3 separate regions of the Homo sapiens genome follow, and all the other regions are linked to region 1. Evidence: fine-mapped expression QTL. A gene starts in region 1. Each other region holds a variant in brackets. All regions are shown on one strand. Distances are between the middles of the regions. Region 1 holds the start of RSPO4 (R-spondin 4). Region 2 has its middle 24 kb from the start of RSPO4. Region 3 overlaps RSPO4 (R-spondin 4).

What was found. PIP is the estimated chance that this variant, and not a neighbour inherited with it, causes the effect.
Region 2: its variant is fine-mapped to the expression of RSPO4 in uterus (GTEx, PIP above 0.99).
Region 3: its variant is fine-mapped to the expression of RSPO4 in thyroid (GTEx, PIP above 0.99).

What each region holds. Positions count from the first base shown.
Region 1 is chr20:1,001,123-1,003,622 of GRCh38, forward strand. It overlaps RSPO4 (R-spondin 4), which reads right to left and starts at 1,189. Exons shown (of 5, transcript NM_001029871.4): 1 at 964-1,189. The coding sequence starts at 1,042.
Region 2 is chr20:1,025,253-1,028,096 of GRCh38, forward strand. No RefSeq gene overlaps it. Among named protein-coding and RNA genes, the nearest start is that of RSPO4, 24 kb to the left of the region's middle. The variant T/C (reference allele first, on the strand shown) is at 1,218.
Region 3 is chr20:956,690-959,533 of GRCh38, forward strand. RSPO4 (R-spondin 4) reads right to left here. Exons shown (of 5, transcript NM_001029871.4): 5 at 1,763-2,844. Among named protein-coding and RNA genes, the nearest start is that of ANGPT4, 42 kb to the left of the region's middle. The variant G/C (reference allele first, on the strand shown) is at 1,729.

The DNA.
Region 1 (2,500 bases):
ACTGGACGACCCCTATGTCATGAGCATATAGTTGGGATTTGATGAGCTAGGACATGAAAAACCCGTGGCATAGTGGCTGGCATTCGGCTGCTGATCTTAAGAGTGGCACCTGGAGGCCAAAGGGCTGCCCAGCTCAGGCAGGCGATTTGCTCACTTGCTCACCCGCTTACCCTTCTCTGAGGCACAGGCTCTACCAACTCCTGCTCTGCAGGGACAGCCTCCAACCCACCTTCTGAGGATGTTCTGACTCTCACAGCGAGGCTGTGGCATAGGACTCCCAGGTGAGAGCGCATGCGGCCCCTGGTACATTTATAATCTGAACCTTGGCTCATCTTCCTAGTGGCCTGAGAGGTGAAGATGGAAAAGCTGAGGCTCTCTGAGGGGCTGGACTTCTTCTAGGTCATCCCCTATTAGAATAAGTGAACCTGAACTCAGGTCTCAGGTCTGGCTGAACTCAACATAGGGGGGCCATGGAGGATCACTGCCCTCTGGGAGGTGACACCAGGAGTCAGGGTGAGTGATGAGGCTGGGACTGGGGCCTCTGGACGCCCAGCCCAAGGCTCTCTATGTCACTTCCTGGCCGAGCATGGATGCTTGGAATGGCTTCTACGCCACTGAGTCTGTCTCCTAGTCCCTGTGCCCCGCAGGCTGGCTCTTGAGTCTTCTGTCTCTGCACGAAGCCATCCTCCTTTCTGCTGACCATGCGGCTACTACAGAGAGCCCTGCTACCCTCTCCCTTCTGGGTGAGTCTCCTTGGCCCACCCTACTCAATGGCTCGCTCACTGGGTGCCCTGGAGCCTCAATCTCCCCATCTTAAGTGAGGTTGAGACTCGTCTGGAGGAGCGAAGGACCCAGGGCGCCAGGCACCAGGCAGATGCCCCCAGAGCCGCCGCCCCCGGTCCTCCGGCCCCCGGTCTGCCCCGCAGCGCCTGCCCGGCCGCCCTGCCCAGCCACCCCTTGTACCTTGCTTCTTCCTTCGGTTCAGGGCGAGCATGTCCACGGCGTGGGCGACGAGCAGGAGCAGGCAGAGTGGCGCCCGCATCTGGGCAGCCGGATCCGGGCTGGCGCTCCCCAGGCGGCCCGACGGCCCAAGGGCCCCACGTCCCGGCGGCGGCACGGCGGGCGCGGGGGCTGCTGTGGGCGCGCCGGGCGCATCCGCCAGGCGCGGGTCGGTCCGGCCGCCAGGTCTAGTGAGGGCGTTGGCGGAGCCGGGGCACTGCCCTGGCGGGGAGGAGCCGGCGCGGCGGGGGCGGCGCGTTAACCAGCTCGGGGCCCGGGAGCGCGCGCGGGGAGGGGGCGGGGGTCACCCGGGTCGGGGCCCTCGAGTTCGATCTGTCCCGCAGCCGGCGGTCTTGCGTCTTTCCCGCCCCCAGCACTGCCCCCGAGCACGTGCACGTGCCCACCGCCAGCCACAGGTACGCACGCGCGCGCAGGTACAGATGCGCGGACACCCGGAGACCCGTACGGTCCCCCGCGCCCTCTCAGCGCCTGTGATTTTCTTTCCCTCCCCCCAGTCCCCTTTCTCTGTCTGTTCCTCCTTCTGGCCCTTAAGGACAACTCCTTGTCTCCTGCTTTCTCGGTCTTTCCGCGGCCCGCGCTCCCCTGCTCTGCCCCCGACCCTGCCTGGCTGTTCCTGCATCCTTTACTCTTGCCGGCCGTCTCTCTCTCAGGCTCACTGTCTGTGTCCTCCTGGCTGGGCCTCTGGTTCTCCCTTTTCTCTGTCTCTCCCTTCAACCCCATCTCTCCCCTTCTCCCCTCCTGCAGGGTGGGGTGTTTGCGGGGCTCCTGCTGCCTGGCTTTCTCTTTTTCTCTCTACTCTGTCTCATTCTTTTAACAGAGGCCTGAGCCCCTTCTGGCCACTAACCCTGAATGTTTCCTGTGCAGTCTGCGGGGATCATCTACTCCGACTCAAAGTGACCAGCACCTCATAAATCCACTTGTGACAGGGCTGGGGACCTGGACTGTGTTTCCTCCAACCTTATCACCAGGACTGGGAGCAGCTGGTTCAAGTTTAACCCTTTCAGAGCAAAATTCCTCCTTCAACCCGACAGCATGCTCACCTCTCCTGTCACTATAACCACCAAAAACAACAACAATCATGCTAGCTATCATTTGTGAGGCATATATGGTGGGCATTGCTAAGAACTTGACATATACTAGAGTCTTCAAAACAACCCAATGGTTTGGGTTTGTATTCTGAGTAATTCCACTTTTCTGGGGAGCAAAGGGAAGCTCAGAGAGGCCAAGTGACTTGCCCAAGGCCACACAGCAGGTCAGTGGCCATTCTGGTCCAGTGCCTGCCCCTCTTAGCCACTTCTCAGGCACAGACTCATCAGAATGGAAGAGGCCTTGGAGGGAGGCCTAGAGAAACTTACAGTTGACACTCTCTTGCTGAACAATTGTCCTTCCTTTTTCTTTTCTTTTTTTTTTCTTTTTTTTGAGATGGGTTTTCACTCTGTCACCCAGGCTGGAGTGCAATGGCGCCATCTCGGCTCACTGC
Region 2 (2,844 bases), 24 kb after region 1:
CAAATGATAAAGCTTTACAAACTGTATTTATCCCTGTCAGCATCACTCAGATGAAGAAAGAGATATGACCAGCACCCCAGCAGCCCTACTGTTATCCTCTCAAGGAAAACTATCACTGCCCTTCTATTACTTTTATCACCCTAGACTAGTTTTGCTAATTTTTGGACTTTATATAAATAGAATCAAAAAGTGGATACAATTTTGTATCTTTCATCTTTGGTGCAATATTCTGTTTATGTGAATATTGCCAAATGGCCTGACACTCCAACCAGTGTGGCAGAAGGCCTGTTCCCCCCATGCAGCCACCCAATACATTTTAACTAACCTGTAGTCTGTATTTTGTTCAGTCCCAGTAATGTCCTTTACAGCTTTTTTTCTAGTTTGGGATTACATGTTGCATGTAGTTGTCATGTCTCTTTAGTATCCTTTAATCTGGAACAGTTTCTCAGCCTTTCTTTGTCTTTCATGATGTTGGCCTTTAAGAAAAATATAGGTTAGTTGTTTTATGGAATGTCACATCCCTCACTTTGGGTTTGTGTGATGTCTCCTCATGATTAGACTGAGGTTATGCATTTTGGGCAGGAATATCTTGTAAATGATGCTGTGTTCTTCTCAGTCTATCACATTAAGAGGTACACAATGTCAATTTGTCCCTTTATTAGTGTTAACTGATCATTTGGTTAAGGTGACATCCAGTTTCTCCACTGTAAAGTTGTTTACTTTTTCTTTTGTAATTAAAAAGTAATTTTAGGAAGCTACTTTAATATCTTTATCTATTAAATATCCTTTTCCTTGTCAAAGCCATGGTATGTTTAAAATGTGAATTTCTTTCTAAGTTCAGGGGTACATGTGCAGATTTGTTACACAGGTAAACATGTGCCATGGGGGTTTGTTGTACAGATTATTTCATTGCCCAGGTATTAAGCCTAGTACCCATTAGTTATTTTTCCTGATCCTCTCCCTCATCCCACGCTCCACCCTCCAGTAGGCCCCAGTGTGTGTCATTCTCCTCTGTGTGTCCATGTGTTCTCATAATTTACCTCCCACTTATGAGTGAGAACTTGTGGTATTTGGTTTTCTGTTCCTGCATTAGTTTGCTAAGGATAACGGCCTCCAGCTCCATCCATGTCCCTGCAAAGGACAGGATCTCCCCTTTTTTATGGCTGCATAGTATTCCATGGTGTATATGTACCACATTTTATTTATCTAGTCTATCA[T/C]TGATGGGCATTTAGGTTGATTCCATGTCTTTGATATTAGTGCTGCAATGAACATACAGTTGCATGTGTCTTCATCATAGAACAATTTATATTTCTTCTTTTTTTTTGTTTGAGACAGAGTCTTGCTCTGTTGCCCAGGCTGGAGTGCAATGGCACAATCTCAGCTCACTGCAACCTCTGCCTCTTGGGTTCAAGTGATTCTCCTGCACCACCCTCCCAAGTAGCTGGGATTACAGGTGCCCACCAGCACTTCCGGCTAATTTTTGTATTTTTAGCAGAAACGGGGTTTCACCATGTTGGCCAGGCTAGTCTCAAATTCCTAACCTCAAGTGATCTGCCTGCCTTGGCCTCCCAAAGTGTTAGGATTACAGGCGTGAGCCACCGCACCTGGCCTTTACATTCCTTTGGGTATATACCTAGTAATGGGATTGCTGGGTCGAATGATCTTTCTGTCTTTAGGTCTTTGAGGAATCGCCACACTGTCTTCCATAATGGTTGAACTAATTTATACTCCCACCAACAGTGTACTGAGCATTCCTTTTTCTTCACAACCCTGCTAGCATCTGTTATTATTTGATTTTTTAATAGTAACCATCCTGACTGGTGTGAGATGGTATCTCATTGTGGTTTTGATTTGCATTTCTCTAATGAGCAATGATGTTGAGCTTTTTTTCATATAATTGTTGGCTGCATGTATGTCTTCTTTTGAAAAATGTCTGTTCATCTTCTTTGCTCACTTTTTTAATGGGGTAGTTTTCTTGTAAATTTAAGATCCTCATAGATGCTGGGTATTAGACTGTGGTCAGATGCATAATTTGCAAAATTTTTCTCCCATTCTGTAGGTTGTCACTTTGTTGATAGTTTCTTTTGCTATGCAGAAGCTCTTTAGTTTAATTATGTCCCATTTGTCAATTTTTGCTTTCATTGCAACTGCTTTTGGTGTCTTCATCATGAAATACTTGCCCGTGCCTATGTCCTGAATGGTATTGCCTAAGTTGTTTTCCAGGATTTTTATAGTTTGTGTTTTATAAAATGTGAATTTCTTAATTGAGAGTAATGGGAAGCATTTATTCCTGTGCTCCTGAGTCACCGGTTTTCCTTTTTGATGAATTTTGATAATCATTTTTTCTCACTAAAATTTAAAGGTTTAATTTTTAAAAACTGAATGGTTTAAGCTTAGCCCTATAGTTCTTGAACCATGATTTTAATAATAATGATTTTTTAATCTTCATTGCTCTAGCACCTTTAAGAAGGATTCGTTTGAAAATTCACCTGTGTCTCAACCCAGGAATAGGCTTGGCCTTCCTTCTCTGATGGCAGCCAGGGAGCTTCCTCCCATATACCGTGCCCACGGGAAGGAACAGAAATGCTTCCTGTCACTCCCAGGGGTCTCCAGCTGTCATAAGCTGCCAGCTGGAGGTGGTCCAAGCCAAGATTACAGCCGGCCTTTATCCTATAGTTATCACCCACAAATCACCCCCTATCCCCAACCCAGGGGAGTCTCTCTGTCCATTCCATACCCCGGATACTGAACTCAGCTCCAGAACCAGGGACCTCCTGCCCATTCACGATGGCCTTGAGCTCCCAGTGCTGTCCCCACCACTCAAGATTGTCCCATACCACCTTT
Region 3 (2,844 bases), 44 kb before region 1:
GTGGGGGGAACTGCAGAGAGGGCCCTAGTGTGGCCCAGTTGGAAGCGGTGACAGGAAGAACCCACCAGGGATTCCTCAGCTCTGGCCAAGGGGTTGTTCTCTCCCTCTGGCATAGCATCCAGAAGGCCAATAGCAGCGGAACCTCCCCCTGGGCTCTGCCCAGACTGCCTCTCTTTGGCTGTGTGACCTCACCCTGTTTCTGAGCTTCTCTGTGAACTTCTCCAAGCTTGGCTTGTAAGAAGGGAGTGGGCGATGCCCACCTGACAGCAGAGTCTCCTTCCCAGAGAGGCCCCTCAATCCTCCAGAGAATGTGGGAGAGGCTGGGATTTGAAAGGATTGGAGCTGGGGGCAGGGAACGTCTGAGATGGAAAGGTTATAGGAGGGGCTTAGGCCCTGAAGAAATTTCATCCTGTAATTTGAAAATATTAAAAAACCACCACAGCCCCCAGCTGAGGACAGAGGACCAGGCCCCCCAAGAAGAAAGAACATGGCCAGGGAATTGCAGTACTGGAAACTTCTACCCTTATGTTGGTCTTTTAGAATTGTGAAAATTAGAACGTTCAGCATCCTAAAACTGGAATCTTAACAGAAAACACTATATAGTGTATGTATGTGTGTGTGTGTGTGTGTGTGTATATATATATATATTTATATATATATTTATTTATATAGGGGCTGGGTACAGTGGCTCATGCCTGTAATCCCAGCACTTTGGGAGGCTGAGGTGGGAGGATCATTTGAGGCCAGGAGTTCAAAACTAGCCTGGGTAACATATTGAGACCCCCATCTCTACAAAAAATAAAAAATTAGCTGGGTGTGGTGGTGTACACCTGTAGTCCCAGCTACTTGGGAGGCTGAGGCAAGAGGATTGCTTGAGGCCAGGAGTTTGAGGCTGCAGTGAGTTGTGATCGTACCACTGCACTCCAACCTGGGTGACAGATCAAGACCCTGCCAAAAAAAAAAAAAAATTAAAAAGATACACACACATACACACACACATACAGACTAAACTCTGTAGAATCAGATCATTGAGCCTTGAGGTCAGAATCAGAATTGCAGCTGCAAATCTAGACTCAGCCCTCTGAGCTGGAAGTCATCTGAGAGCCACCTCTCCCCTCAGCTTGTCCTGGAAAGAATGTTTGCTCTCACTGCCTGCTCCTAAACTTGTTTGCAATGAATAGATCTGGGGGAGGGCCCCAAAACCTGAATTTCTAAAAGGCTCCCCAGGGGATTCTGTTGTTGGGTCTTCCAGATTTCGGCAATAGATTTAATTTAGCCAGGCTTCCTCTTCATCACATTCATCACATGGGAAAACTGAGGCCCCGGAAGGGGAAGTGACTTGACCTGGACCCCATCAGATAGCTGGTGACAGGCTGGAGCTCCCACCTGTGCCTCCCAATGCCAAGGCCACTCTCACCAGCAGCCCAGGGTGTTTAGATGGCCCCGTGGGACTGTCAACCTCCTAGGTACCCCTGGTCCCTGAGACATCTGGTTCGTGAAACTGCGAGGTTCTGGGGATCGAGGTGTCACCCTCTTCTGCCTCTGGCTGAGTCTGCTTCTTGAGAGTAGCCTGGAGGGGCTGAGGGCCCCTCCTCTTTTATCAGCTCCCCCCAAGCTGAAACCCCACCCCAATCCCCAATACACTCTGACCCCTCTCAGCCCCAAGCATTCCTGTGAAAACCACTCCACATGTTTTAAATTCTGCTACTCCAAACTCAGCAGTATCAT[G/C]GTTTTGCAACACCCTCTTGATGCTCAAGAAGCATTTACAAGTTTCTTTTCCCTTTATTAAGAAAGTTTTAAAAAAAAGTTAGGGTCTTGAAACAATAACAACGGAGCATTTCAGAGGCACAAACGTTTGCAGAAGAGAAGCTGGTGGCCTGGCCAGGCGGAGGAGGGGGCTCTAGCTGTTCTCGGGGAGGTGAGAGCAGGGAAGTCAGAGAGAGGGTGGGCCTGCTGGGAGGGGGGGGTTCAGGCCAGGGCTCCCCAGCTGCCAGGTGGAGGGCAGGTCTGAGGGTGGGTGCTCTCTTGGGGTCGGGAATGTAATATTTCATCACCTAGAGCCTCTCCCCCAGCCTGCTGACCATCTTCCTTCCCCAGGCCACCCCTGGGCCCCTTGGAGCTCCGACTCTTGCTTCTCCTGCCCATTCCTGTCCCAGTCACGGAGCCCTACGTGTTCAGGCCAACCAGTCACGGCAAATACAAATCCCGTTTCTGAGGATTCCGGGGAGCAGAGCAGGAAGGGGGTGTTATGATGGCAGAAGGATAGGCAGTGAGGACAGACTTGCTTCCAAGCTGGGTCTGACCTGGAGACTCCTCCCAGCGTCGTTCCTGCCTAGGGCGAGGGGCGTCACAGCGAAGCACAGATGCTCAAGTCACTGGTGGTGGGTGTGGGCGAGTGTGGTGGTGGGTGTGGGGGAGTGTGGTGGTGGGTGTGGGGCAGTGTGGTGGTGGGTGTGGGCGAGTGCGGTGATGGGTGTGGGCAAGTGTGGGGGTGGGTGTCAGCGTGTGGGGGTGGGTGTCAGCGAGTGTGGTGGTGGGTGTGGACGAGTGCACGGATCTTCCCTTGCTCCCCACCCACAATTCCCTACATTTCCCCCCTCAAGTGACCCCCAAATTCTCCTCTCCACCGTGAATGTGCTGAGCAGAGCCATCAGGCAGAAGCAGAGCCTGAAGGCTTCCTGTGTGACCCTGGGCAAGCCCCTTCCTTCTCAGACCTGTTTCCCCACATGGGCAGGAAGCGCTGAGGTGGGGAACAGAGCTGCTGGATAATCTCAGCTTTCCTTTCCGTTTCAGTGGCCTCTTCTGGGCTGGGCAGGTGGATCCCCCAGCAGTGACAGCTCACCT